Regions from separate parts of the Homo sapiens genome. Here all the other regions are linked to region 3. The links come from fine-mapping of genetic effects on gene expression. A gene starts in region 3. Each other region holds a variant in brackets. All regions are shown on one strand. Distances are between the middles of the regions.

The links. PIP is the estimated chance that this variant, and not a neighbour inherited with it, causes the effect.
Region 1: its variant is the best candidate, but not a certain one, in a credible set for the expression of TMEM255A in blood mononuclear cells (TOPMed, PIP 0.87).
Region 2: its variant is the best candidate, but not a certain one, in a credible set for the expression of TMEM255A in atrial appendage (GTEx, PIP 0.88).
Region 4: its variant is the best candidate, but not a certain one, in a credible set for the expression of TMEM255A in monocytes (TOPMed, PIP 0.50).

What each region holds. Positions count from the first base shown.
Region 1 is chrX:120,272,936-120,280,611 of GRCh38, forward strand. TMEM255A (transmembrane protein 255A) reads right to left here. Exons shown (of 9, transcript NM_001104544.3): 7 at 3,950-4,112. It also overlaps the pseudogene PFDN4P3. Among named protein-coding and RNA genes, the nearest start is that of ZBTB33, 26 kb to the left of the region's middle. RefSeq lists an enhancer at 1,845-2,522. The variant T/C (reference allele first, on the strand shown) is at 4,287.
Region 2 is chrX:120,437,157-120,444,832 of GRCh38, forward strand. LAMP2 (lysosomal associated membrane protein 2) reads right to left here. Exons shown (of 9, transcript NM_002294.3): 7 at 5,443-5,506; 8 at 4,574-4,738. Among named protein-coding and RNA genes, the nearest start is that of LAMP2, 28 kb to the right of the region's middle. The variant A/AG (reference allele first, on the strand shown) is at 4,028.
Region 3 is chrX:120,307,915-120,315,590 of GRCh38, forward strand. It overlaps TMEM255A (transmembrane protein 255A), which reads right to left and starts at 3,547. Exons shown (of 9, transcript NM_001104544.3): 1 at 3,338-3,547. The coding sequence starts at 3,395. RefSeq lists an enhancer at 1,514-1,563.
Region 4 is chrX:120,283,259-120,290,934 of GRCh38, forward strand. TMEM255A (transmembrane protein 255A) reads right to left here. Exons shown (of 9, transcript NM_001104544.3): 5 at 3,896-3,964; 6 at 1,869-1,957. Among named protein-coding and RNA genes, the nearest start is that of TMEM255A, 24 kb to the right of the region's middle. The variant T/C (reference allele first, on the strand shown) is at 3,520.

The DNA of each region.
Region 1 (7,676 bases), 35 kb before region 3:
TTCACCATGTTGGCCAGGCTAGTTTCAAACTCCTGACCTCGTGATCTGCCCACCTCGGCCTCCTAAAGGGCTGGGATTACAGGTGTGAGCCACTGCACCCGGCCGGGCAGTTCTTTATAGCAGTGTGAGAATGGACTAATACATGCACTTTACCTGGGTTATCACATCAGCCCTCACAAGTCCACAGGTAGGTGCTACTAGTGCTGTTGTTTACAGGCTGCAGAAAATTTCAACGCTACTTTTGAAGATCAACATTAGGTAAACAAATTTGCAAGGAATATGAGTAGAATCACAGAGCTGAAGGAAGAAACAGAAGTTAAAAGGAAACAACTCCACAATTTAGAAGTTGTTTGCAATGACATCATGCTTGCAGATGATGACTGCTTAATGATACCTTATCAAATTGGTGATGTTTTCATTAGCCATTCTCAAGATGAAACACAAGAAATGTTAGAAGAAGCAAAGAAAAATTGGTAAGAAGAAACTGATGCCTTAGAATCCAGAGTGGTATCAATTCAGTGAGTGTTAGTAGATTTGAAACTTCAGTTATATACAAAATTTGGGGGTAACATAAACCTTAAAGCTAATGAAAATTAAACATTTTATAATACTTTAAAATTTTGTTTAACAATCTTGAATATTGTTTGGAAAATAAAAAAATCTGCAAAAACTTGATAGATATTTCTCCAAAGAAGATATACATACAAATTGCACACAAACATATAAAAAGATGCCCAACATCACTGGTCAGCAGGGAAGTACAAATCAAAACCACAACAAGATACCACTTTGTGCCCACTAGAATGTTTATAATTTTTTTTGAGAAAGTGTTGGTGAGGATGTGGAGAAATTGGAACCCTCACACACTGCAGGTAGGAACGTAAAATGACACAGCTGCTGTGGAAAACAGTTTGGCAGCTCCTCAAAAAGTTAAACATAGAATTACCAAATGACCCAGCAATTCCACCCATAGGTGGAAAAAGAATTGGAAGCAGGTAATCAAACAAGTACTTGTAAGTGATTGTTCATGAAGGCACTATTCTCAGTAGCTAAAACATGAAAACAACCCAAATGTATATCAATGGATAAAAAACTAAACAAAACGTGGTCTATCCATACAATGGAATATTATTCAGCCATAAAAAGAAATGAAGCACTGATATATGCTACAAGGTAGATGAATTTTAAAAACAAAAAAAATATGATAAGTGAAAGGAGCCAGACCCAGAAGTTCGAATATTGCATGATTCCATTTATAGAAAATACCTGTAATAGGTAAATCCATAGGGACAGACAGCAGATTAGGGGTTGCTGGGGCCTCAGGGAAGGGGCAACAAGGAGTGATTGTTTAATGGGTACAGGTTTCAGGTAATGAAAAAGTTCTAGAACTAGACAGAAATGATGATTGCACAACATTGTGAGTGTACTAAATGCCACTGAATTGTACACTTTGAAGTGATCAATTTTATGTTTGTGACTTCCACCTCAATTTTTTTTAAAGGGGGACAGTGAGGGAAAACGGGACTAAAGCTAAGGCTAAAAGCTTGGCAGGGTTGTGTTCCTTAGCATATCATCTTCCTATTCCTCCCTTCTTTCCAACTTCCAGAAATTTCTTGAAAGTGTCCATCTAGCCACTCTCCCTGTCTTCCTCAGATGCCCTTTGCCTTCAAAATCCAATTCTTTCCATCACCATGGAAAAGGGTCTTATCAAATCCTTCACACTGAGAGACTAGTAACTCAAAGTATAAACACCTCTGTGGCCTACTAGCCTATTCCTTTGTTTAATACACGCATCTTGAAAGTGGACAAGGAGAAAAAGGACAATGCTTATCTTAAAGTAAGGAATAAAACATGGTGGCAGTTTCAGCGCCCACAGTAGGGTAAAATTGGAGAGGGGGAAGCCTTACAGGCACCCCACAGAGCCTACCAAGTAGCTACCACCTACTCCATTTGTGCATCAAGGTATCTCTGCCATCCAAGCCTGAAAGCTCTAGGGACAATTTAGAGAACTCTTAACACTCATCCTGAGGTCCCATCTCCTCAACTCGCCAAACCTGGGAGCTTCTCTTCCAGCCAAAGCTGCTGAGATTCCACACAATACCTGTACTTTCATCTGCCCCCTGGGGAAATTCTCCAAGAACAAAGGGCATTCTTTTCTCCAAAGAAGCCCCAACCCAGAAACAGCTTTTTTTGCAGCTCTCTAACCTAAAAGCTTCCTCAAGGCCAAATTTACAGGAAATCCTTTTCCCTCCTGGGGCTCCACCTTTGTTGATGCTTCCCCTACTTGTTAGTGCTTGGGCATTCCAGAGTCTGGGGAGGGAAGCTGGGAAGAGAAATGTGCGGATGAGAGAGGGAGAGAAAGAAGAAAGAGAGAGTGCAGATGGGCAGGAAAGGATTTCTCTTGACTTAGAGTCACTAGCAGGAACACTTAATAGTTCCAGTCAGCCCAGTACTGCTGGAGACTTGCAATCCAAAACGACAGAGTTTCTTTCTTTTCCCTTGTCCTACCCCACCTTTCACTTTCCAACATTCATCCTTTTGACCGTCCAGGATCAAATTACAAACTGCCTTTCAGGTTCTGTTCTTCAGGGACCCCAAAATCTGACAGAAACAGCCAAGGGCCTAGGAGCTAATTTCTGGGGTCAAAGGAAAGTCCCTCTTAGGCACAAAATAATTCCATAAACAGATGTGGGATGTTCATTTAAAGCAGTGGTATTCAATCATGGCTGCAGATCAGAATTACCTGGGAGCTTAAAAAAAAAAAACCAAAAAACCAAAAAACAAAACCTGATGCCTGGGCTTCAGTTTAGACCAATTAAATCAGAATCTTTAGAGAAGGAGCCCAAGCATTTTTTTTTTTTTTTTTTTTTTTTTAGAGACAGGGTCTTACTCTGTCACCCAGGCTGGAGTGCAGTGGTGCAATCATGGCTTACTGCAACCTCAACCTCCTGGGCTCAAGTGATCCTCCCACTTCAGCCTCCCAAGTAGCTGGGACTACAGATATGTGCCACTACACCCAGCTAATTAAAAAAAGTTGTTTTTTCTTAATAGAGACAGGGGCTGTTGCTCAGCCTAGTCTCAAACCCCTGGGCTTAGTCAATCCTCCTGTCTTGGCCTCCCAAAGGGCTGAGATTACAAGCATGAGCCACCATGCTGGGCAGGTGATTCTTATATGAAGCCAGGTTGATAACCATAACTCAAAGCTATTATCTCCATAATTAGAGATCTAGATTTATCAAATAAACAAATAAATGCTTAGAAATGCCTTAGAAGGAAAGGAAAAAAAGAAGCCTACTATATGGAGTACCTACTGAATGCTGAGTCCTGCTGTGCCTTTGCAGACACACACACACAAATAGAAAAGATTTGGAAGGGAAGAATGGAAAGTGGGGAGGCTGAGGTTGAGGTCCAAGTTGAAGGCAAGACCTGGCAAGCAACTTAGCCTAGAGCTGGCTCTGCGAATGCAAACAGAAAAGAGCCCAGATGCTCTTTCTGAAGAAACTTCACTATGAAATACCTGGGGAGGGGAAGACTAGCATTAATCCTACCTATAGCTAGAATAACCTTTCCTTCCATCTCTCCCAAAGTTTGTTAGGGGAAAACTATTCCCAAAAAATTTTACTAAAAGTGTGGGGTGGGGCTATAAAAGACTATGTTTACATAACCAGTGCGAATGGGGGAACTGAGAACACCCCTTCCTCCTTTCACCCCCCACCCCTAGAAGGTGCCTCCAGAACACAGGTAATTTGTGTATAACAAGAAATATTTGCAGACTGATGACATTACCTGGCTCCTTCAACTTGAGACATTTGAAGGCAGCTACATCCTTGAAGCAATTGCTTCTGATTCTTCCCTTCAAAATATGTGTCTGCATTTCCCCCAACTGCCTAGCCTTCCCCCTATGTCCAACAGGGGCCACTGTGAAATGCAAAGTCAATTCTTTCCTTACCATGTCCTTAAAGCCTCCAAGGACAGCGGCAGTGATGATGCCCAGGAACAGGCCAACAATGTTGAGGATGGTGGCAGACCAGAGCAGGTGGTAGAGGTGGATGATATCTTGGCAACTGCTGACATCGATGTATTCGTAGTACCCACCAGTGATCTCCACCCGGCTGGACAGGGAGGAGCATGCTCCAGTCAGTCCCCAGGGAGCAGGCTGTCCTCCCCAGCCCCCTCCCCAACTCTGGGATTGGGCTACCATACAGCTCAGTGAAAAGACAGGTGGGCAGGTGGGGAGCTACAGTAAGAGACATCATAGCCATGTACTATAATAAATCAAAGTGTGA[T/C]TGTTTATCCCCACTCCCCGAAAAAAAACTCCTACCTGCCAGAAAAATACTTGTAACCACCACTAACACTAATCCTAGATAGCACTTATTGACACTTGCTATGTACCAGGCACAGTGCTAAGCATTTCACATGTGTGAATTCATTGCATCTGTGCTGTTTAATGTGGTAGCTACTAGCCACATGTGGCTATTTAAATTTAAATTAAGTAAAATTAAGTAAAAAGAAAAATTCAGTTGGTAAGTCTCACCAGCCACATTTCAAGTGCTCAATAGTCACATGTGGCTAGTGTTTACTATACTGGACAGAGCAGGTTACAGAACATTTCCATCATTGCAGAAAGTTCTGCAAATCCTCACAGTATCCTATCAAATAGGGACTATCACCATGCACATTTTACAGATGAAGAAAGTGAAGCACAGAGAAGTTAAAGAACTTGCCCAAGTCGTAAGTGGTAGAACTGGGACCTGAATTCAGGCTTCAAAGACTTCAGTGTGTGCCCTCTCAAAACAAAACAAACAAAAAAACAAACAAATAAAAACCAATGTCCTGGTAAACAACTAAAGCTGAGTTGCTACACAAAACCTGAAAGTCGCCTCCGTGGGGAGGCCTTTCTTGACCACTCTGTCCAAAGACACCCCTTCCCAGCCCTGTCGCTCTCTATCACATTATCCGCTATGGAATGAATTTTGTCCCTCCAAATTCATGTGTTAAAGCCCTATCCCCCAATGTGACTGTATTTTTAGATAGGGCTTTTAGAAGATAATTAAAGTTAAATGAGGCCACAAGGGTGGGGTCCTAATCGGATAGGATTGGTGGCTTTATAAGAAAAGGAAGATCTCGCTCTCCTCCTCCTCCTCCTCTTTTTCCCTCCTTCTCCCCTGACTTCCCTACTCCACGCCCCTCCCCCACCCACCCCCGACCCCGACTTTCGTTCTCTCCCTCCCTACTTGAATGTGAAAGGAAAGGTCACTGTGAGCACAGAGGGGAAGTGGCACAAGCCAGGTAGAGAGCCCTCACCAGAGCTCGACCATGTTGGCACCCTGATCTTAGACTTCCAGCCTCCAGAAATGAGAGAAATAAGTACATTTCTATTGTTTAAGCCACCTGGTCTATGGTATCGTGTTATGGCAGCCCGAGCTAAGCAATACATCACCCTTTTCTAATTTCTCTGTAGCATTCATTCCCATATGAAAATAACTTACTGATGTGTCTACTACGTTATTGTCTGCCTCCCCAACTTGAACGTGAGCTCCATGAGGGCAGGAACTGGTTCATTTTGCTCACTGCTGTGCTTGACACACAGTTGGTGCTACATAAATACCTGTGGAATTAATTAAATGAAAGTTCCTGTCCTCCTGGATGTCACAAACTAGTTTACAACTTGGCCACTGGAGTTCATCACGAATCTAAAACACTTAAAGTCACAACGAAACGCCCTGGCATTAGGATGATTATTACATGTGACTCCCCTGCTATAAGAATGCAAAAAAGAAAACAGAAAAACAATCAAAGGCTGATCTCCAAAATGAATCAGAGAGGGACTATTCACATATGAAAAGACTTAAACTTTACAGATGAATTTATCTTCAGATTCTTTAAAGTCAGTGTTTCTCTAAGGAGGTGAAGTCAGTGTGGTTACAGGGCAGACTGCATCAGAATCATCTGTGTTTGTGTCTATGTGTGCCTGCCTGTTTGTATCAGTGCATTATTTGTGTGTGCCTGTGGGTGTCTCTGCGTGTATCTGTGCATGTATCTTTGAGAAAGAGAGATGGTTAAACATGCAGATTCCTAGGCCCAGCCCCAGTCCTACTGAATCTGGTAGAATCTCTGGTGATGGGGTCAAGAATCTGTGTTAACAAGTTCATCAATGTTTGAGACCCACTGTTTTTAATAGTAAGCTTCCGTAGTGGAATTTTTTAAAAAAATATTTTTTGTAGAGACAGAGTCTTACTATATTGGCCAGGCTGGTCTTGAACTCCTGGCATCAAGAGATACTCCCACATCAGCCTCCCAAAGTGCTGGGATTCCAGGTGTGAGCCACCACACTTGGCCCATAGTGGAATTTTAAGGGAGTTTCAATTAATCAGAGTTTGAATTGGATTTCAGTATTTTCAGGAGCATATCTCAAGAGCCCATGCATAAGCATACATTGTCTCCTATTAGCTGGCATTGTACTAGGCCCTGGGGACAGGGCAGGGAGGATGCACAGATTATTTACTGCCCCCAAAAACGGACAGCTGTACAAGGACTATTCTCTGAAAAGGACAGACCTGTGTGTATGGGTGAGTGTGGAACTGCAGGAGCACCTTTGTAGCTTGGGAGTCAACTTCTGACATCCCCCAAATTATGTTTGCCTGCCTCCTAAAACACCAAGGGTGGACTAGTAGTATATATAGGCAGGCAGTATGCCATAGCTGACTCTGAAGTCAGACTGTGTTCGAATCCTGGCTCTGTCATCTATGCTCTGTCACCAGATGCTGACTCTAGCAACTTACTTTCTTACTCTTAGGTTACTTACTTTACTTAACTTCTCTGAGCCCGGGGGATGTAATGCCAACAGGCATGAAAGCAGTACTCCAACATATAATAAAAGCCTCCACTAAAATATGTAGCTACATTTTGTTCCTTCTAAGAGCCAGCCTCTGGCAACACAATTCAAACCTTTGAACCCTGTTCTTAAAGGTATTAACACTTTATTTTGTTTTTTGTTTGTTTGGTTGGTTGGGTTTTTTCTTTTTCTTTTTTTTTCCTTCCTTCTTTTCTTTCCTTTTCTTTCTTTTTTTTTTTTTTTTTTTTTTTTGATGGGGTCTTGCTCTGTCACCCAGGCTGGAGTGCAGTGGTATGGTCATGGCTCACTGCAGCCTCAACCTCCTTGACTCAAGTGATCCTCCAACCTCAGCCTCCCAAGTAACTGGGACTGCAGGCTCACACTGCCATGCCCAGCTAAATTTTGTAGAGATGCGGTTCTGACATGTTGCCCAGGCTGGCCTCGAACTCCTAGGCTCAATCTATCCTCCCATTTCAGGCTCCCAAAGTCCTGGGATTACAGCCATGAGCCACTGTCCCTGGCCAGTATTAAGACTTTGTAGGCACAAACCGCAATATGGGAATAGGATAGTAGTTTGTTTTAAAATATTCAATAATTTTAGATAATATATACTTGGTTTCAGTTTGAGTGGTTCCAGCAGCCATTTAATTTTTTTTTTTCACTGAACCATGAAGGAAAAGAAAGCTAATTCTTAGATATGGTTCGGGTTTAGCAAATTAATGTGGTTTTTTTCTGCTTGAGATTCAGGATTCCATTTGGTTCAGTCTCTGGGCAGAGCTTCCTCTGAAATTGCACCTTTTGCATTCCCACTGCTCCCATCCTCATGCCTCCATCACTGTAA
Region 2 (7,676 bases), 130 kb after region 3:
CAGGAATCTGATCTTGAGCCATAAAGGTTTTCAGGCTAAACAAAGAACAAATTTAAGTGACGGAAAATATTTATAATTCCAATATAACTCAGTTATATTGTTATAAAAATACCCATGCTAGCATGCAACTGCCTATATATGTGTGCATATATATATATATGTCTGTGTGTGTGTATTGATCCATTCAATGTCAATATTTTGGAACCCAGACAATTTTCTCATTTTCTAGTGAATGGGAGGCACATAATCCCACCACAAAAAAAAAAAAAACACGAAAAAACAACCCCACAGGAACCTTCCATATATGGCTGCATATTAACAATTTTAATATTTGCTCAGCCATTCCAACACACACCAAAAAAGTTCTCCTAGAAGCAGCAAGAAATATTTGATGTGTTAACTACCAAGCTGATGTATTTTGCTTTCTCCTATAAACATTAGGTGGTACACGGTAATTTGACAATTGGTACATCTCTCAGACCACAAAACTGAACACAAAGCACGTGAATTAAAAATGATTCTACCATAATGAATAATAACAACGAAAGTTTTGATTAGCACAGAACCATTTAAATGTGAAAGCCAAATTAGTGATGTTGTAGCAATCAATGCAAGCTGGAAACAAAGAACAACTTTTTAATGGATTAAGATAAAACCAAGACTTTTTGGTTAGATGCAAGTTTTGTTTGTTTGTTTGTTTTGTTTTGTTTTGTTTTGAGATGGAGTTTCGTTTTTGTCGCCCAGGCTGGAGTGCAATGGTGCGCTCTTGGCTCACCGCAACCTCTGCCTCCCGGGTTCAAGTGATTCTCCTGCCTCAGCCTCCCGAGTAACTGGGATTACAGGCGCCCACCACCACGCCCAGCTAATTTTTTGTATTTCTGATAGAGATGGGGTTTCACCATGTTGGCCAGGCTGGTCTCAAACTCCTGGCCTCAAGTGATCCACCCACTTCGGCCTCCCAAAGTGCTGGGATTACAGGCGTGAGCCGCCACGCCCAGCCTAGATGCAAGTTATTTTATAAGTGTAAGTGCACTTCGTTATCTAGGTTCTAGGACACACTGGCATTTCTTAAGAAAAAGAAAATAATAAAATACATCACTATCAACAAGAAATGTTGGAAGGCTAAAGAGAAATCTGCATTAATTTTAGTACTGCATACAGAGGCCAATTTATGAGCACAAAGTACTAATGCCCTCAATTGGCACTGGCAAGCAATTATCTCTAAAGCACCTAAAAAATGGATTGAAATGCCCAGTTGGAATAGTCTTATATATTGCAATTTAAAAGATTGAAATATCCAGTTTTTTTAAAAAAAAGATTAAACAATAAGATTAATACCTACTCTAAATTTTAAAAAGCTTTTGTATCTTTTGTCATTACAGCCACATAAATACAAATGTATTCAAAAGGCATTAGAAAAGCATTTATTGCTAAGAACATAATAATACCAGCCCCTGTTCAAATCTACTATTATATCTCTCAAAGGTCAAATATGCAGCAATGCCAAAGTAGCTAAGTTAACCTGCAAACAAAAATCACACACACACACACACACACACACACACACACACACACAAAAAGAGCAAAAGGAGCAAGTACAAATCCACGGTAGAACATGTTGTTCCAACTCAACTACCTGCAGGGAAAAAAAATCTCTTTTTCAAAAATTGTTTTTTCTAAACGGTGTATTTTTAGTCTGAATGTCTAAAATGAAAACACTGAAATACTAATTCAAGACAGTAAAATAGAACTTATAATCCAGTGATTTTGCACATCTTTTGCTGTAAAAATAACAGTTTTAAATTCCTTGGTTGGAAAAACCAAAGTCAGGCAACTAATTTGTAGTTGATAGTTTTTTGTTTAAGTTTGAAATCCCCCATACCACCCATTCTAAAGAGCTGGACTGCAACTAAATATACCTTAAGTTGACCAGTATTGCATGTTGGAACTTGTACTTGCTTTTTTCTTTTGTAACAGAGATCACGTATTGATTAGTGTTACAGAGTCTGATATCCAGCATAACTTTTTCTTCTGCCAATTACGTAAGCAATCACTATAACGATAATCAAGCCTGAAAGACCAGCACCAACTATAATTGGGATTAGAATGGTGTCATCATCCAGCGAACACTCTTGGGCTGTAGGTGAGAAAAAGTGTGTAATAAATAATGAGTATAATCACAAAAGAATGTCTCGAAGTCAAAGATGTTGATTTAAAAGTCAGAAATGTTCTTACAAGATCAACTTCAAGTAACTAAGACAGGTATATTTTTATGATAAAGCTATAGAAAATGGAGAACTGTTCTAGAATTAAAATTCTAAGACTTTCTTTGTCCTTTCATTTGTTTATGTGTATATATGCAGATATTCATATATATGAATACATGTATATTCATTTACATCTATAAACACAGCTCATATTGTAATGTGCATATATTATATGCACATTGTATATGTGTGCATATATATAATATATGCACATTATATATGATATATAATGCACACATTATATATATGATATATATTTTATATGTGATATATATGTGTGCATATACATATACATACACACATATATGTTTGTTTATATTCCAAGTCCTTTCCAAAATAGGCATATTACTTTATCAGAAATAAAGGGAGCTAATCTAGCCCACTTTTACATAGCCAGATTAGCCTCTCAGTGGTAGAGTGAATGTCTTTTGGGAAAGTGGAAACAGGATCAGGAAGGTATCATGTGATGAGAATAGCCAGGCTGGCTCTGTCTTTAGGGTCAGGGGTCAGCAAGCTGTAGCCCATGGGCCAGATCTGGTCCAAGAGCTAAAAATGGCCTTTACATTTTTAAATGGTTGAAAAAAATATTTTGTGACACATGAGAGCATATAAAATTCAAATTCCAGTGTCCATAAATAAGGTTTTATTGGAACCCAGCCACAGTCATCTGTTTATGTGTTGCTGTTTTCGTGCTACAATAGCAGGGTCAAATAGTTGTGACAGAGACCATATGGCACCAAAGCCTAAAACACTCACTGTTTGGAACTTTAAAGTTTGCAGATCGTGACTTAGTACATACAATTTTAGTGGCTGCAAAGTCAAGAAAACTGGGACCTCTTACTAATTTGAGCGTGCTTACTGCATTTCTTATCTGGTCAGGGTTGGCAGCCTAAGGGGGCTATTTTTTTCTACTTCTAGAAAGTGGTCTGATCCAGTAAAATCCAATCAACACTCTTCTGCCTTATTGCAATTCTATTTCTTTCCCCATACAGTCAAATATTACCTATGTGTTGTATTTATAGGTACCCACAGCCAAGAACCTAGTTCCACAAATAGATTATACATTCAATATCAGTATTAAATGCTGTATATCTCTTTGGGTGATATTTTTAATTCTATGTACATAAAAACCAAAGTTTCAAAGTAAGAGAAAGAGCACAGCTCATCTCTATTACAGGTGACTAGATAAACAGTCTTGAAGTGATGATACTAATACTGCAAACGATTTTAAACTGTAAACACAAATCTGGACTTAAAATTAGGGGAATAATGAAGGGGAGCCAGATAAAAAGTCCAAAAATAAAGCTACTAAAGGATCAAAATAATTGAAGTACATAAGCAAAACAGACAAAAGGGAAAATGAATTCTTGAAAATATTTTTAAAGTGTAACTAACGTCTTTAATCGCAAGAATGGTAGGGTGGAGAGCCCAATTTATTGTGGCCTAACCAAGTCAGACTAGGTATTCAACACCACTGCAAAAGTAGTCGAATGGCTCACAGTATATTCGCTTTTAAACACAGCTTCCACATTTCCTTCCAAACCATAGAATTAATGGTTGAAAAGGATGTGGATGCCTGGAATAGCTAGCTCTGCTCAACAGAGTTGTGATCCACAAACCCCCAATTTTAGGTAATAGGCTTAAAAGGACAAGTCAATTAAGGAATTTTATGTGCTTTTTTTCTTCATGCAAATTTTAATCTTGTAATGCCAAATATGTCTTTCATATTCGTATGAACACATTATAATGAGCCCTTCAAA[A/AG]GGTTTCATTAAAAATCTAATAAATACCACCATTATCCCTGAGTGATCTTCAAAAAGCGTCATTCACACTGGCACATGCTTTGAAAACTCTCCAGATCGTTTTGGCTGGTAAAAACATAGTTCATGATATTTGAGGCTTTGCTACCGCTCTTTATCTTTTGTCTTAACAAAATCAGACCAAACTGCTTTCATTCAGGTATGAAAATGTTTCCAGTGAGAAGACGGCCTCAGGAAGCAGATGCAAGATGCTCAAAGCTGCTGCTCCCAAGTGCCATCTTCCCTACAAACTAAAACCCATACCTCAAATAAAGCTCACTTAAAGCTTCTATCAGTTTTAGCTTTAAGAACTTTTTTTGCAAATGATTTTAAGATCACAAAAACATCTCGGTTGAGCAAAATGATGAGCCAAATATAGAGTTGCACAATTTGGTCAAGGCTATGAATTCATATTCCTCTATTTCAACGTTTAAATGTCTATGATTCAAAGGAAAAGCCACCTGTCAACATAAGAACATAAATTATTAATGAAGTTTGCTTGATTCTTACCTGTAGAATACTTTCCTTGTGTCACATTGAAAGGCTGAACCCTTAGATCAAAGGTATTTATCTGAAATGCTCCAGACACTGAAACAGTCTGCTCTTTGTTGCACATATAAGAACTTCCCAGGGGGGCATCCCAGTAGCTGAGATTGTTATTTGCAATGCTGAAAACTTCAAAGAAAAGAAACAGGTTAGTAACTTCTTATCCTATCAACATCAAAAATGGGAAAGTTGGCCAGGCACAGTGGCTCACGCCTGTAATTCCAGCACTTTGGGAAGCCAAGGTGGGCAGATCACGTGAGCCCAGGAGATCAAGACCAGCCTGGGCAACATGGTGAAACCCTGTCTCTACAAAAAATACAAAAAAAAATTAGCTGGGCATGATGGTGCACACCTGTAGTCCCAGCTACCTAGGAGGCTGAGGTGGGTAGTTGGCTTGAACCTGGGATTGAGCTGTGGTCACACCCCTGCAATCTGGCCTGGGCATAGAGCGAGACCCTGTCTCAAAAAAAAAAAAAAAAAAAAAAAGGAACAGTCCTCAGGGTTTTTCAGTGAAGGCCTGGGGGACAAGATCAACCCACAAAAAGCAATTCTTACCATAACTAGGTTCCCTTATCTTTCTATAGATGTTTCTATAGTCTAAAAATCAGTCATATCCTTAATTATTATCTACTCTACTTTGAAAAAATGGGATACAGAAAAAGACAGAACATCATAGTTCTAAGTTACTGATTTTAAGGTATGATCAAGGTACACTTTTTACATAGCATCTTCTGTTTCATTAAATAAGGCACTATTTGGTAATAAGACCATTGTAATTTCTAATCCTTCAGGGTAATCCACAGTCTTTTTCCCCAGGCCAGTGCTTTGCTTACCGGAGCCATTAACCAAATACATGCTGATGTTCACTTCCTTCAGATAAAATCGGTTTTCATTTTTCTGTTTGAAAAAGAGCTTCCAGTTAATTAACATTTCACAACTGTCTACAGATAACAGATACGGTTAATACCCACAGAAGAAAAGCAATCTAACACTATTACACAGAAGAAGAAATCATGCGGTAGAATAAACTGCAACTAAGTAAAAGAGAACTCATAATCTGACAGAAATCCCTTTCCTCTGTATTTTGTTTCCAACTTTTGGAGCACAGGTGTAGTCATGTGGATCTCAGACACTTGAAGATTTATGGCCTCAATTTTATTCCTCCTGTCACTTGCTGAGCCCTCACCACCTCTAGCCTGGATCACAGCAGCCTCTTAAGTGGGCTCCCTGCCTTTCAGCCCCTCCAGTCCTAATCTTTCCTTTTCACTGCTATTATCTTTCTGAAGTACTCATCTGATCAGCCAGTCATTCTAATAATTTCAGAGTGCAAGTACTCCAGGAGCTACCAAAATGAACCACACTTCAATCCTGCCTTCACCCTGTTTGCAATCTGCCAGGGAAGGTAAGATAAACACATAAACAACCATATTACAAAAAAGAAAGTGAGAAGTCATGAAAATAGGAGAGAAATCACTTCCAAATAAGGGAGGAGAAAAAGTAATGCCAGCTTAGGGATGGGGCATTTTGAACCGGGCAGGATTCTCTTAGGAAACAAGTGGGAAAAGGGGTATTTGAGAGAGCAAGAGTATAAATAACGGTAGTTAGAAAATAAGCATAATCTCAAATTTTTATGCTAGCATTTGAGCACTTACTAAGTGCCCAGCACTGTTCTTAAAACTTTACATATGATGCTTCGCTGAGTAAGTACAACACTCCTATGCAATAGGTGCTGTTATCATCCCCATTTTGGGAGTATGGCTGCGGAGTCTATGTAATTATTATTACTATGTTCTCCTACCTCACAAGAAGTGCACAGAGGACAGGATGAGGGAAGCACCCTGAAGGAACTAAAGGAAACATAAGGTTCATAAAGAGGGAGTGAAGGCTGAAAATGCAGGCTGCATTGCATGGGAGAAAAGAAGGCTTGAACTACCCAGCCATGGACTTTAGATGTTACCTTGTTGGCAAAAGAGAAACATTGTGAGGCAGGCAGACCATGAGGTCAGGAGATCGAGACCATCCTGGCTAACACGGTGAAATCCCGTCTCTATTAAAAATACAAAAAATTAGCCAGGCGTGGTGGCACATGCCTGTAGTTCCAGCTATTTGGGCAGCTGAGGCAGGAGAATCGCTTGAATCTGGGAGGCGGAGGTTGTAGTGAGCTGAGGTCTCGCTACTGCACTCCAGCCTGGGCGACAAAGCGAGACTCTGTCAAAGAAAGAAAAGAAAAGAAGGAAAAGAAGAAAGAAGGAAGGAAGGAAGGAAGGAAAGAAAAGAAAAGAAAAAAGAAAAGAAAGAAAGAAAGAAAAGAAAGAGAGAAACACTGATGGAGAGATGTGCTTTAGGAAGGTTAAGTTGATGTAGAACAATGGAGAAGGTGAGGAAGAGGAGCAATCAGGCAGGAGCTGTTTGAATGGTCCAGGCAAGAGGTAATGTGGACTGGACCCAGAGCAAAGGCAATGGGGAGTAAAAGCTAGGAGACAGACTTCAGAGAAATTTCAGGAAGAAGCATAATGGAGGACTTCACACCTTCATCACATCCCTCCTCGACTTAGGCTACATCTTGGCTTTGCATTCAAGACTCCACAATTTGTCCCAATGACTTTTCCACATTTTCACTAAACATATAACACTCCTCATTCTCCCAGCTGGTCTTGATTATGCCCTTTATCCAGGGATAACCTGCACTTTCCCACTTACTCTCCTTATCTCCCTACCAATACAAATCAGACCCATCCTTGAAGGCCCAGCTCAAATGCCATCTCTGCCATTAAACCTTCCTGACTCTCCTCCAGCCGGAATTAACCTCTCCCTCCTCCATTCTCCTGCAGCACTTTGTACTATTCTCTGGTCTGGCACTCATCCCATTTCATATACACCTTCCACAGTACTATACTGCCTACAGAATCGAGTTCAAAAGCCTTGGCATGGCATGTAGGCCTTTCACAAAAATGGTAATTATTTGCAGATTTCTCCCATTACCACTAAACTGTGGGCACTTTAAGAATACTGGCTTTCTTCTCCATAACCCACCATAGCAGCCTGCACATAACGCACTCGAATTCTA
Region 3 (7,676 bases):
TGATGACCAGGATGCTTAGCTCTAGAAGCACCCAATTATTTGCTATCTCCACCCTTCCAAAAACAACCAGCTTTTCTCTCATCCGGGTATTCCCCCTGGTCAGAGCCCCCATCTGCATTGCGGTCTTTGAACCTGGGTGCCTCCCTTCCTTTGAAACATGCTCAAAATTCCCCTCCTCCAAAAAGTTTTTCTTGATCAAAATTAATCACTTATTCATGTCCCTAAATTCCCAGGTACCTTACTCAATAAGTATATTAATTGTAACTGGTACCATTACAATTGTAACCGTGGGTCTGGTCCACAACCCATATGATATCTGCCAGTCCCAGGATTGTGTATCTGAGGGAACCAAGATGTGAGTTGCTAGAAGGTAGGATGCTGTCTCTGTTACTTTGTTTTACCTTGCACACGTTCTTGATTATCCTCTCCCAAGAGAGTAGATAAGGTGTATAATCTTTATTGGGCACAGAAAAGTTGGGAACCCAGTATCCTGTCCTGTACACGGTGTTGTTGATGCCTGGCTAGTTCTCTGGGTTGATCTTTTGAACCGATTAGGATTTGCTTACCTGAGTCAGCTTTGCCACACAGGGTGGGTCCCCGGATATCCCAGCCTTGAGTATCCCTAGAAACAAGTGGCTGCCCACACAAGGGCCTCAAGACCCTGCCAATCTCCCAAACATTTCCTTAAAGGCGCTGAAATCCATCCCTCCCCACTTTAGACAGTTCTCTGAATGGAGAACATCCGAGGCCGCCCGCGAATTACAAATGTGTTATTTGGGAGGAAGGAATGCCCTACTGTAGTAGAGGTGCCTTTGCGCCTGGGGGCGGTGTTGCCAAAAGGGAGAAGGGGGTTGCTGGGAGGGGATGGGGGGACACTGGAGTCAAATTACCATCTTCTTAATTGCAAAGCGCCTGCTCCACTCTGAGCCTTGGACGCACTGCTCTATTCCCAGGCAGCCAGCAAGCGTAGAGTGCAGGCACCTTGGTGCAGTGTGTCTGCGTGTTTTAAATTTTATTGTTTTGGTTGCGGTTGTGTCTTGACAATAAAGGGAGTCCCCTCAGAAATGCTGCCCTTGGAGGCTGAAACACTAACCTACCTACCCACTGTCCTCTTCCCCCCACGCAAGGGAAGGTGGTGTTGCCAGAGCTAAGTGGGAGTAGCTCCTAAGTAGCCTAGACGCTGATTCAGGCCCGGACTGTGCGGGACCAGGGCCAGGGAACTCCGGGGAGACTCCCCTGTCCAAACTGTGGAAACCCAGCGTTAGCACTGGACTCAGGAATTTGCCAGTGCCGTCGGTCTGCGGACTTCAAAAAGTGGAATGCGTGGCGCCGGCTCCGCTTCTATCTGGGATTTATGATTCCTTTCCCGCAGTGTGGAGACTGGGCTGGGCGAAGCCCACTCAGCTGTTTGTTGCGCAGACCTTTCGAGAAACACAAGATCGCTGAGGGCCCCTGGGAGCCCAAGAAAGAAAGCTCTTCATCTTGTTCCCCAACCCACAGAGCAGTGCGCCAAGTAGCGACTCTTTAAGCCCTGGGCCACCAACCAGCCCACTCCCCGAAGGCAGACGGGCCCGGGGCGCTGTGGCTTGATTTGCAGGTGGTTAGGTGGTTGTCGTCCGCAGCGGGAATGGACGCTGCGGAACCCCAGCACTCTTCCACTCTGCCCTCCCTCGCGAAGCGCAACAGCTTGGCGTCGGGGAGCCAGGGCTGCGTTGTTGGCGCCACAGCTGGCCAAGGTAAGCAGTGCATTCCCACCTCTCTGTCTCTCTCTCTCTCGCTCTCGCTGTCGCTCTCTCTCGCTCTCGCGCTCTCTCTCTCTCCCTCTCCCTCTGTATGTGTGTGCGCGTGGTGTGTGTGTTGGAGAAAGAGTGCGCGCGCGCGAGCTGGGAGTAAGGGGGAGTCTGGTACTGCTGGGCTCGGGATTCGGACCAAGTCCTTGGCCTCATTTGTACCCCGTTGTAAATAACTACGCCCTTAAAAATGAAAAAGCAAATTCTTATACTGAATATGCAAAACCATTGAGGATACGGATCTTTCCACCATCCAGGAGATAACACTTTCTGGGGCCCCTCCGGTGAACGAGTTTTGTTGACACTGAGTCTTCTGCGGGCAGTAGGGAGATTATATAGGGGGTTCGATCTTCTCCCTGCCCCCTCCACTCGAGATGTTCCCGCAAATTCATCGGAGAAGACCTGAGCAGACTGATGGCAGGAACTGCGGGACAGAGGGATTTTGCAGAATGTAAAGTATGTTGGAAAGAGAGAATTCGATTTGATTGAAGTGTATCCGAGGCGAATTTTAAAAGATTAGGTGGGATCATGATTTTACAATCCCCTCCCGCTCTCCAGGGCTCCAAATTAATTTCTCCGCCCAGTGAAATCACAGGGCTTGGGAAGGTGCCTAACAGCTGAGGGGGACTGGGTTTGTTTTTTTTTGTAACTACCAAAAAGCAGCTTCGAGGGGCAGCCAAGTTGGTGCCCGAAGGTAGCTGTCCCCCAGTTTCTATAAGGAAAGGAGTCGAAGGGTGCCCCTCCCCCTCCATTCCGCCCTGCGAGGAAAAGCGCGACTTCAGAAGATGCGCGGGCTCGCGCTGGATGTTTCTTTCTCGCGCTCTCACTCCTGCCCCTGACTCCCTTTTCACACTCATGCACATTCCGTGCATTTGGAGCAGAGTAACAATCAAATTCAAAGAATGTTGATCCCGCCGCTGCAGAGGGCAGGGCTGGGCTGTCTTGAGTGATTCCTCAGGAATTCCCCTCCCCTCATCCCCCCCTTTCTTCTCACCCCCGCCCATCCCCCAGAGTTGCGCAACCCGCCCCCCCCCCCCAATCAGCGAGGTGCAAGTCAGGCCCCCACCCAACTGCATCTCTAAATTTCAGGGCAGCTTCAAGAGAGTTGGGAGGGGGCGAGGACCCTGCTTCTAATTGTCGTTAGTCGTGAGCTCTTAGAAGTGACCAGGACTTTGCAAAGAGGGAGTGTCGAATGGAAAGCGAAGGCGCAGGTTGCAGGGAAGTGTTTTGATCCTCAGATTGCTGGGATTTACCACCGACTGCAAGTCTGTAGACACACGCACACAAACAGGCACACACCCGCACTCCGGGGCAGAGATACTCCGACGCAAGCTTGGCGCTCCGATCTCCGCACGTCGCTCCCGCTGCAGCCAGGCCGCTCCCCTGGGACTCTGGTCCACCACCCAGACGCTGGGGCGCGAAGACCACCCCATCCATGCCCCGTTTCCCGCTCTCCGGCTTTTGGGGCAGCTGGGGCGTTCACAGTCCAGAGGCCAGGGCACTCAACCCCTGCTGCCGCCGCCCGAAGGAAGGGCCGCTAGACTTACCCATGGAATCGGGCAGGGACATGTCGCTGGACCGCTGCTGAGTCAGGGACTGATGCATGGTGAAAACTGCCCGGTTGCCCCAGTCCCCGAAGCTGCTTCAAGCGCCCCCGGCTCTGGGCGCCCCGCAGAGCATCCTACTCCGCGGTTGCCTCTCTCGGTCCTTCCGAGAGCTGAGAGACACTGCCTCTGGTTGCGAGCTGCAGCCCAAGTGCCGCCTCCCCCTCCCTTCCACTCTTCTCCCTCCCTCCTCTTCTGCCTCCCTCTGCTCTGGGAGGCAGCAGCATTGGCGGTCCGTGCAGCCGCGTGCGCTTGCGCAAGACCCCCCCCCTCCTCCCTCCCCCTCAGTCTCCCCATCCTAGTTATCCACCTCCCAGCCTTCCAAGCCAGACAGGGAGCAGTTTTAGCCCCTTGGGGCCAGGGCTGCGCAGAGAAAGAGGGGGAGGCTTCAGTATGAAGCCAACCAACCTTCTCTATAGTTGGACAGGGTCTTGGGTAATTATCCTGTTCTAGGATTTATAACTGGGGAGGGGGTCAGAGTCAGAGGTTCAGAGCTGAGGAACACACACACACACACACACACACACACACACACTTGAGCAGGTCTGGTCTTAGTGCTTCCAGAATGACATAATGGAGCTGGAGATGATCCAGAGAAGGGCCACTCTATAATCAAAGGGATGGTGTGTGTGGGGCGGGGGGAGGGTGGTGGCTGACATATGAAGATAGATTAAACAAACGCAGACTCTTTAGTCTAGAACGATGAAGGCTGGGAAGTGATGTGACCAGAGTGTATAAAATTATGCAGAGACGGAGAGAAGGAGCACAGCCTTATTCACCAGACCTGAGAATTCTAGAACCAACAGCCCCCAATCTTTAGCTAGAAAATTCAGCTAAAGTATAACTCTGCACCAGAACCCCAGTTTGTACTGTTCAAGTGCTTTTATAACAAGGATCTCATTTTATCATCATAGCAGCCATGCAAGGGAGGAAGAGGAGTTATCAATAACCCCATTATGCAGAGGAGGAAACTGAATCTCAGAGAAGGGAAGAAAATATCCTGTGCCCACTCAGCTAGTAAGTGGCAGAAGTGAGAGCTAGAACCTAGATCTGTTGGACTCCAAGGTGAGTGTTCTTGCTATGGCGACTGAAAAGAACTATTATTCTCTATAGCAAATGGAAAACCTAAGGAATTCATTAGCTCCAAAAGATGCAGCAAGATGAAAATGCAAGTAGCTTTGGAAAGAGTGAAAGTAAAGTCATGGCTGACAGATCCACTGTGGATTACTAAGGGAAACTGGGGATGAGGTGGGAATGTCATTGATCTTGGAAGACAGCCAAATCCTTCTCGAACCTATCCTTTTGGACCCCATTAGGATATTGGGCTTGAAGCACCTTGTGGTTGGACCAAAAGGTGGTTTGAATGTTCTCAAAACAACTGCAGATCAGGATGAGGCCTCCTTGGAGTGCCCCCAAGACATCTATCTGGTGGCCAGGGGAGGTGGAGGGTGAGGAAGCGGGTAACAGTGGACTCCACCTCCCTCTGGGAACAGCCCTGGAAGCCTAACATAGCTAAGAGAATATACCTATTTGGAGGTGCCCATACTGTCCCATTGAGGAGCTCCCAGGCTCTGCTTGCCAGGTCTCCTTCCAACCACCTCCTTCTGATGGTTGCTGCAATCCTTTCTCCATGTTCCCCGAAAAACCCAAACCAAATCAAGTATAAAACTATTCTAAGAGTCAATGGGATGAAGAAGAGTACTTGGCTCTTTCCAGATCTGCCTTGCTAATCTACTGTAAAGCTTTGTTTTTCTTATCCAGGAAATGGGACTGAAGGCCCTTGCCCTTTCCCATCTTCTGAAGGAAGAAAATATGTTTCTTGAAGATTAAAAAGGAAGCCCTTTGTAAAGAACTTGGGCACCCCAGGGGCCACGTTGAATGCTGTGTCAGGTATTATTAGCAACCCTACACTATACATGTGGTTTAGAAATCTGTGATATATGTCCTAGATAGAGACAAGATGCCTACTATTGTAGATGTGTGTGTCTTAAGCCTGCTTAGCTTGTGTCAGGGTCTCTATAAGCTCCACAAAGGCAGAGAGAAATCCTGTATTTATACTTCTGCAATGATTGTCTTTGAGTCCTGTTTACTTATCTCTTTCTCCTCTCATTCTAAATATCTCATACTTAATGTGGAGGACTCCTGCAACCAGCACTGATTTCTCAGGAGTGCTTGCTAATTAACATATTTCGTTTCTGTGAAAGTAGCCTGAAAGAAAAGAGGTTTTTATACAGGCTCTAAAGACTATATGACACCTTCTTTAGAGATTCTTGGCTCCCCTATAGCAATCACACAGCAAGAGATCCCTAAAGAAGCCAAATAGAAACTTGTTACCATGCTGGTTTTGATGGACAGATTGAGGGCTTTTCAATTCAGAGAGAAACACACTACCCACCAAATGATGCAGAGGGCATATGTAATTTGACCTTTATAATCCCAAAGACACAAACTAGTGAGGTACCTTTAATGGGAGTGAGGTTTGCTTTCTCAACATCTGTATTCCTGAATCCTGCTTGAAATTGAACATTATTTTATAAAGTACTAGAGGAGCTGGCTATTTAAAAGAACTGCATATGGTATGTTTCTTTTGTGCTGTCTCTTGGGGTGCCTTGTGGGACTTGGAGCACAGCACGCACTCAGTCAAGTTAAAAATGACTTTGAGACCAGTAGCAGTGACAATAGCAGCAGCTGCAGCAGCTTGGAGAGTAGTAGCAGTCTTCTCCCCAGAGATGGTGTATTTGTCTGGAGAGAGGATCGGGAAAAGGGGAGGGACTAGAATGGGAACTGGGGGGAAAACCCCCTACATTTTAACTAAGCCCAGTACATACACCTCTTTTCCTCCAAAAAAAAGTTTATTTTAACTCAAATTGAACAGGATGATTAAAAAGCAAGAGGCAATGTTTCCTGGGCTCCATTCTGATTTTCTTCATGTCAAAACACATGTGGAGTTTATACATAAATAGGTTTATAATAAAACTTACCAATAGGCAAGCCATCTAGATGAAGAAACAGGTCTTTCATGCAAGTGAAGGCTACTATAAAACTGCTTGGTTAGCTTTTGATAAAAAAAAGAAATTATTAAAATGCCTTAAAATAAATCCTTTTCATAGCAAGCTTAATCAAGCATACAGTGTTGCCCTAGGTTGCAAACTGCTTTATAGCATCAGGAAATGTTTACCAATGGGGCTGCAGCCTACTTCTCTCCATCTTCTTCAAACCAGTGATGAGCGCCCTCCCCAGAAGCCTTCAGACCAGTAGAAAAATGCCAGATGGTGCTCTGTGTCTAACACATTCTCCCTGGGAAGAGCCATAGCATTCAATTATCTCCTTATTTTGCTGACCAATTTGACTATTTAAATTACATAGTATACCTTCCTGATTCCAATTCTGGGAATGTGGGCTAGAGAAATGTCTACATGTTTACACACACATACATGCATACATGCATATTTAAAATGGTGGCCATACAGGTATTCACAAGTGCACATACTTATAGACATCCCAGCTAGTATCTCTACGCTCTGGTTATCACCATCCAACTCTCGTTTTCCAGACTTTGGTTGATCAAGGACAGAGAGAAGCTTCAGAATAATGGAGAGCCTCAAAGAGTCCAAACATTCCTAACTGAGGTTGGGGTGTGCCCACCAGACTACCTTAGGTCAATGCCTAGTACTCAGTGCCTGCACCACAAACATGTGAATCTTGATTGAGGAAAACCATAGTTAAGGGTGTTGCCTGATTCTCATTGCCAGCTGGTCTTTTTCTTTGGGTACCAGGAAAATAACCATAGCACCAGGGAACAGTGTTGGTACTTGTCTTTACTTTGTTATTGATTTATTTCTATTTTGTAACCTGTGTTAGTTACCAAACGCTATATAATAAATGTTTTCCAATATCAGTAAAGAAAAAACCTTTGATAATATGATTTAAAATGAATGGAACATAATTTATTTACCATTTCACTGTTATTGAATATTTTAGAGATTGCCAGTTTTTTAACATTGTAAATAATGCAATGAACTAAACCTTTGCATCTTTTTCACCGTAGGATACAATACTATCATGGAATTATTGGTTCAAACGTTCCAAACACATACTTTTAATTAAACTTTTTTTATCAACACACATGTAATAAAATGTACAGACCAATGTATTTTAACACACACACACACACACACACACACACACACACACACTTGTAAACCACCACCCAGATTAAGATATTGAACCTAACATCCCAGATGGCTCTCTTGAGCCCCCTCCCCAGTCAATAACCCTCCCA
Region 4 (7,676 bases), 25 kb before region 3:
AATTGAACTCCCCAGATAATCCCTAAACCTCATTTGAATCTGTAAATTTCTCTTCCTCCACTGCCAAACCTTTCAATGAAACAAGACTGGCACAAGCAAAGAAGGTAAAGAGCTGGTGTATGGTCTCTGCCTTCTCCTCCCTGACTCTAGTCTGGCAAGTCTTAATCCTTAAACCAGAGTAACTGACCCCAAAATACCGACAGTAGGGAATGTGAGTGATGAGGGGGCTGCATCCACTTGCTGCCTCTGAATCTAGCTCCATCCAGCCCCACTCTGCAGGTTCCTCCCCTTACTCCCTCCCTCCCGTGGCCCTCAGTTCGCCTTCACTAAGATTCTGAAGGAAATACGTGCATGACGAACATTGGTCGACATACCCTGCATGGAGAGGTGTTCACTCACTGTGCACATCACCTACTCACACATCCCTATTGATTCTACCTTCTAAATTGCTCTTAAAATGATTCCCCGCTTTGCATTGTCTCCAACTTGATCTAGGCTCCATTCTCTATGGCCTGCGCTCTTGCAATGGCCTCCTAGCTGCCTCCATTCCTCAACCACTCAATTCCATCTTCCATGCTGTACCCTTCAATGGCCCCCAGTTGCCTACAGGGTCAAGTCTGAAGTCATTCCTATGGCCAATGAGCTCTCTATCATCTGATCTCTGGCTACACCTCTGTCTTACCTCCTACCACACCTTCTGTAACTACCTCCACCCACTACCTCTTCACAACTACCAGGAATATCCTTCCCACCTCTGTCTTCTTTTGGTTTGTCTCCTGATTCCCTACTTATTCTGTAAGTCTCAGCTCCCATATCACCTACTCTTTGACACTTTTCCCTCCCGGCAAACTCTGACTTTCATTCATTGGGCCTCCAGAATCCCCACCACATCCACTGATCCCCACTGCACTTATCACATTATATTGCAATCGATTGTTCACATGTCCATCCTCTTTACTAGTCTACGAGCTCTTCAGTGGCAATCTCTGTATTCCTAGCGCCCAAATATATTTTGAAAGAAAGAATAAAGGATGTTTTAGCAATTTGGAGTGCACAGAGCCAGAGTGGCTGTAGCAGAACCAGCACCAAAACTGCTCCTGCCTCAGAACCTTTGCACTTGCTATTCCCTCTGCTTGAAGCACTCTTTCTCCAGGTATCTACCTGGGTTGCCCACCCACCCCCAACTACTTTCAGGTCTGCACAAATGTCACCTGCTCAAAGAGGCCTTCCCTGGCTACTCTATCTAACATACAGTGTGCGTGCATGTGCACGTGCACGCACACACACACACACACACACCCCTCATCACTATCTACCTCTCCTGCTTCATTTTTCTTCAGAGCTCTGATCACCACCTGGCATTATATTATATATTTCTGTATTTGTTGACTGTCTCCCCTACTAGAATATAAGCTCCACAGGGGAAAGGACTTCTGTTTTGTTGGCTGCTGAACCTTCAGTGTCTAGAACAGAGCCAGGCACCGAGAAGGTACTCAGTAACTATTTATTGAACATTGTTAAACTTGGATATAGACAGAGCTGAGTTTGAATCCTATACATATTATTTTCAAGTTCTGTGTAACCTTGGGCTAGTTGTCTGTTTCCTTTGAACTTCACTCTCCTCATCTATAAAATGAGGATTACTCTGCATACATCATAAGTAAGAATTAAATGAGATCAAGTATGTGAAAGTACCTAGCATGATGCCTGGCACAGAGAAGGCAAGTAATGTCTGTTAGCCAAAATCTGTTAACAGATCAATGTCTTCCACTTCCCTAATTCCCACAATGCACCCTTCCTTAACCTCAGCCCTTCTAGTGTCCGTTGTGGTCAGACCATTATTCCTGTGTCTGGGCCTCAACACTTACTTGCCACAGTTGTAGAGGTCACAGCAGAAGCAGGTGTTGCCCCGGATGCGAGGTGTGCAGAATTCACGGCTGAGGTGAGGGCAGTTAACCTGACGGTATATAACAGTGAGGAGATGAGCTGGCATTGGATAGGAAGCAGGACCCTCTGGGATTGGAAATGCGAGTTAGTGACTGATGGAGACAGTAAGGATGGCTTTGAAATGAACACCCAATGTGTGGGAAGGATGGGGCTGGATGGGGAGCTGGCCGAACTTGTGCATGAGGCAAGTCACTGTGTAGCTGGGCTCATGTCCAGCCTCTGCCACAGCCCTCAGTGCCCCATCCCTGAATGGTGGAGATGGAGAGAAGGAAGGACAGATGGAAGGACAGACGGAAGAACAAATGGACTGAAGGAAATGAGAATATGAGGGCAGGCAAAATCAGGGTACAGGAGGAAAGAAGATAAGGTGGGAAGGAAGACAGAGGAGCCGGCGCATGCACTCTGAAGTACAATAGTACCTCTCTAGCTGCCTGGGTAAGGTTCCTCATAACCCTCGTGGAAGGAGAATTTTTGGTTGAGGAACTTATGACCTTATGTAGGAAAAATAGGGTTAGGGGGACCAGGGTTACAAGTGAACCTATGGAAGTCATTATTAATATTTTTACAGTCACCAAATTAACGCAAGAAAGCTATCACAACAAAATCTAGAGAACAGCAATGACATTTTACACATTTTGAGTTAGCAAAAAGGTTTTAAAAACGGAAAAGAATTTCATTTACCATCTCTTGTTAGCAAGAAATTGTCCAGCTCTCTCCCCCATCCAGATGCAATGAAGTGCTGCTAAATTTGTCTTGCTTTGTTATAGAGAATATTCATAGCAAATGGGCATTTTTTTCTATATTGGGTCCTTCATCCAAATGCTTACTGCCTTTCAGATAAGCTGTTATCATATATGCATTTCTATTCCTCCTATCTAACCTGAGAACAGTGAGAGAAATAGTAAATTTATGGTTGTTAAAAGAAAAAGGAGTCAAGTGGATGGCAGAGACATAATCAAAGTATTTGCCATGGTGCCTTTGGAGCAGGACTGCTTTGCCTTACTCCAAGGGCACCCATTCACATTGTATTTTATGTAAAATGGCTTCCCCTGAAGCTGTGCAATGCAGTGGCCATTTTACATCCAATTGCCTTCCTTTTCTCTTCCCAACTGAAAGTTTACCATTTTTCTAACTATTTGGGAATGATTGACTTTCAATGTGAGGTTAATAGAGTACAAAATTGTCAAGATTCCTGGAAGCCTAGGTACAGTTTCATATGGAGAAATCCCTGGGTTGGGAAGGGATTATTGTATACTGAAATGAAAGCTCTCCAAAAATGACCTGGAGTCATACTTTGCCTCACTACGCATTGCATCTAGCTCTGCTTGAGGCAACATGGAACATAAGGAGAGCTGTTTGGGGCAGAAGAGAGACTCATCTGTGCATGCTCAAGCATTATTAGGCTGGCCTCTTGGAGGTGTTATGAGAGGGGCCAGGCTGACAGTCCCAGCCTCCCCAGAGCATAAAGGTGGATCTGGCTTCTCAGTTACCCTCATTTGGCTTCCAGACCCATCCTATGTGTGGAACTCAGGCTCTGCCTCCGTAGTTCAGGCCTAGTGCCCTGGTGGGGCT[T/C]CCACTTTTATTCCAACTGAGCACTGAGTTCAGGCAACTGAACCATCATCCACAGAGATGGGGGAGGGTCATGTCCTGTGGCCTCTGTACTCTCATTTGTCCCCCTGAGGATCAAAGCCACATATGGGGAGGCTCCCGGCTGGGGTCAGAGGGTCAGCCTGTGGCCACAGAACAAAGTAAAACTGATTAGGCCTCATGAGGCTCCAACCTATGACCATGGCCTCATTAGCAATGTGCTCTGACCCACTGAACAAATCAGCTATACATACCTAGAAATAAAACTTAGGCCCATGAAAAGGAGTAAAAGAAAGGGTGTTTCAGGCAGAACAGGGGACTTTCCCAGGAGGTAAAGACATGCAGCCTCATTCTGGCTCACCTCCTCAGCTTCCTTCTGTGATGTCTTGGGAACATAATGGCACCGGTTAGCGTAGAGTGGTTTCAGATCCTGAAAAGGGAAACACCAAAACAAAGGGGTTTTGACTTTGGAAAATAAAACAGCAAGTGTTGTACTTGGTAATAAAAGGTTTGAATACACACACACACACACACACACACACACAGAAGCAGGCAGGCAGTAGATTGGGTTAATTTCTGAAAGTCACCTGTCTAGGGAGACTGAGTGAAGATTAGACAAAAATACTTTAAAAATTACTTTCTATTAGACTACTTGGTTAATGAGAAATTATGAAACTGATTGAGAAATGGGCTTCTTGAAATTTCCTCTCTGGTTTTCTTTTACTTCTGGCCTTTGTCTTCTTGTAAACAGTCCTCAGGGAACAAGATGCAAAACTCCAGGTTATTATGAAATGACACTTTCAAGCAGAGAGAGCTCAAGTCCAACAATGAGGTTTCATTATCACCTGGGGACAGGACTATGGTTGGCTGACTTGTACCTCTTGCTGTCATTTCCGCATCATTTTCAGAAGGAAGAGCTCAGGAAGCAAGCCTCAGGAGGAGGGGCAGCTCCTGAGGCTGCTGTAGATTTTAACTCAATTGAACTGTGAGCCATTTTCACCCAACTGCATAGATTAGATAAAATCAGTGAACTCCAAAAACACTGTTCAAGTCTCAGAAAACTAACATGGGGCTCAAGGACAGTCGATTTACTCTGCTGGCTTGGCCAGCTTCCTGATGAGAGAGAGCTCTCATGCATGGGGGTTGGGGTAGAACCAATAGACACAAGCCAGGGCTGCCTGGAAGCTTGCAGGCAGGAGCTGCTGTTCACTTTCCGGACTGATGCTAAACCTCCCCTGAGTGGTAGGGGGCTTCTTCCAAAGGCACCTTAGGACAGGACAAACAACTTATGCAAATTGACCTTGGGGTTTGGCAGAAGTACCCAGGCAGAGGGAATTTATGTATTGTCTCCTTCCCTTCTGCCCCCACTTCTTTCACCATTTACGATCATCTCAGTGGCTGCTTTTCCCCACACATGTGATTTAGCGTCTTTTGTACTTGGCACTCAAATGCCTCCTGCCTTTTAGCCGGCCTCCCCATTAAGGTTCTAGGACTTTCCATCAGCTAGCTACTTCTACATGAAACTCCTGCCTGCTCAATGTTCTGAAAGTACCTTGCCCTGTTAGCTTAGCTTGGAGTCTAGCTGGAAAGGAATGAGGGTGTTCATGCTCACACCTGGAAGGGCTTATTGTCCATGTTTGGTGTTTGGGTAGTGGCAGAATAATTATCATAATTATCCTGCTGAAGAGGAGGCTTAATGTGCTGGTCACAGCCCTTCTCACCTCCTGGTTTTGCAAAAAGCATTCAGGCACCAAGTGCCCTACATGAAGACAGACGTGTGATAGTTGCCCATTTGCTGCCTCTGGCTGATACTCTTCATTGAGGCCCAGAAGAGTAACAAGAACAAGGCAATTGGGAGGCAAGAAAAGGTCACTCAGCCAGGGCTTGGCAACCTCTGTAATCTGAAGGGCTACCAACTATGGCATGAAGGGGTAGAAAAGGAAATTGTTTTATGTTGAGTGTCTGCTCTATGCCAGGCCCTCTTAGGGCATATCCATTCCCATTATTTAATTTCACGTTCATGCTAACCCTGAAAGGTAGGTTACTACTATATCCATTTAGAAGAAAAGAAAACTATGGTACAAGAAGGTAAAGTGATTTTCCAAGCTAGTTAATGGCTATACTAGGGAGAGGGGAAAGGAAAGAAATATGAGACAAAAGAGAAATGGCACAAGACACATAGAGAAGGGTGAGTGAGAAGGTGGTAGGTCTTGAGAGGAAGTTCAGATTCACCCAAGTCAAAGGAACAGGGAAAGATGATGTTAAAGGGCCTCAACAATAGGACAGCTGGCTCTCACCCATCCAAGCTGTGCTAGGGTCCAAATGTGCCTTTCATTTAAGTTGGCCAACAGATACCATCATAGATTAATAAAGCCTCCTTCCTCAAAGCTCTCTGGGTGTCAATGAGGACTAGCCAATGTCTTAGGGCAGGTATAGTATAAGCAGAAAGATTTTCTTAAATATTCATCCAGTCGTACCCCCAAATACTTGAGTCAAATGCTGTACTGCAGGTCACCAGCAGCAGGAGGTACAGAGGGCCTGGACTCAGAGGCAAGTAGTGGTCATTAGAGGAAACTTCCAGTAAATATAATTTGAATTTTTGCCCATTGCCTTTGACTGGAGCCAATGATCAAAAACATTGGAATGTCAGGAAAATGCAAATCAAAACCATAATGAGATACTGCTTCATACCCACTAGGATGGCTGGAATCAAAAAGTCAGATAATAATGAGAGTTGATGAGTATGTAGCAAAATCAAACCCATCAAACACTCTGGTGGGAATGTAAAATAGTGCAGCCACTTTGGAAAATACTCTGGCAGTTCCTCAAACAAATAAACATACTTACTATATGATCCAGCAGTTATACTCTTAGGTAGAAAGAAAATGAAAATGAAAATGAAAACATATATCCATGCATAAATTTGTACATAAATGTTTACAGTAGAATTATTCATAATAACCAAAAAGTGGAAACAACTCAAATGTACACCAACTAGTGAACGGACAAAGAAAATGTGGTATACCCATACAACGGAATGTTATTAGTCCATAAAACGGAATGAAGTACTTGATACAACATGAACGAATCTTGAAAACATTATACTAACTGAAAGAAACCAATCACAAGAGAATATATATATTATATTATTCTATTAATATGAAATGTCTAGAATAGGGATACCTTACACAAAGAAAGTATATTAGTGGTTGCTTGGGTCTGGGGAGAATGTGGGAATGTGGAGGTGAAAGCTAAAGGGTATGGGATTTCTTTTCAAGATGATGAAAATCTAAAATTGACTGTGGTGATGGTTGCACATAAATAACTGATACATACTAAATATATTAAAAATCATTGAATTATACACATTAAATGGGTGAATTGTATGGGATGTGAATTATATCTCAATAAAGCTATTAAACAACATTAGGAATGAGGGGAAGAGGGGAAAAAAGGAAGCCATTTTAGCTCATGCTGCCATCAAAATCTACTGCAGGCTTCTTAGCCACTAGGCCTATGTTGCCATGGAGACTGCCTCAGAGTGAATACTGTTTGTCAAATGGGGATAATAATGCCTGCCCTATATATATCACAGGATTACTGTGGGTTTCAAATGAGGTAATAGATGTGAAGTCACATTGAAAAGCTAAATGCACTACACAAAACAAGGAATTATTGTTATTAAGATGGCTTCTGTTGAATACAAAATAGTATGCATACTATGATTGACTGCAACTATGCTACAAAAATAGGTATATACTCAGCAGCTAATATGCAAAAACAATAAAAATTGTCAAGTTAGGGTGGTAGAATTATGGATGTTTAAAGTTACTGATGTGTCATTTGCTTTATAAGAAGAAAAAGATGATGAAAAAGATGGCTGATCTCAGCTAAAATCAGAAGGGATGGATCTGGTAGAGGGGCCTACATTTATATTCCTGGTCCTGAAAGAAAATCAGGCAAAGGGCCTTTCTCTGGCATTCCTTGTTTTTCTCCTTGCCCAGGAATTGTTTCTTCAGATGCCATTTCATAGACTATTTGGGTGACGGCATTGACCATAAGTCATGTGGCTTCTTGGTGCTCTCTCTCTACCCCGTTGCCCCCAATACTAGTTCTAAGCAATTCCCCTGATCCTTTGCCTT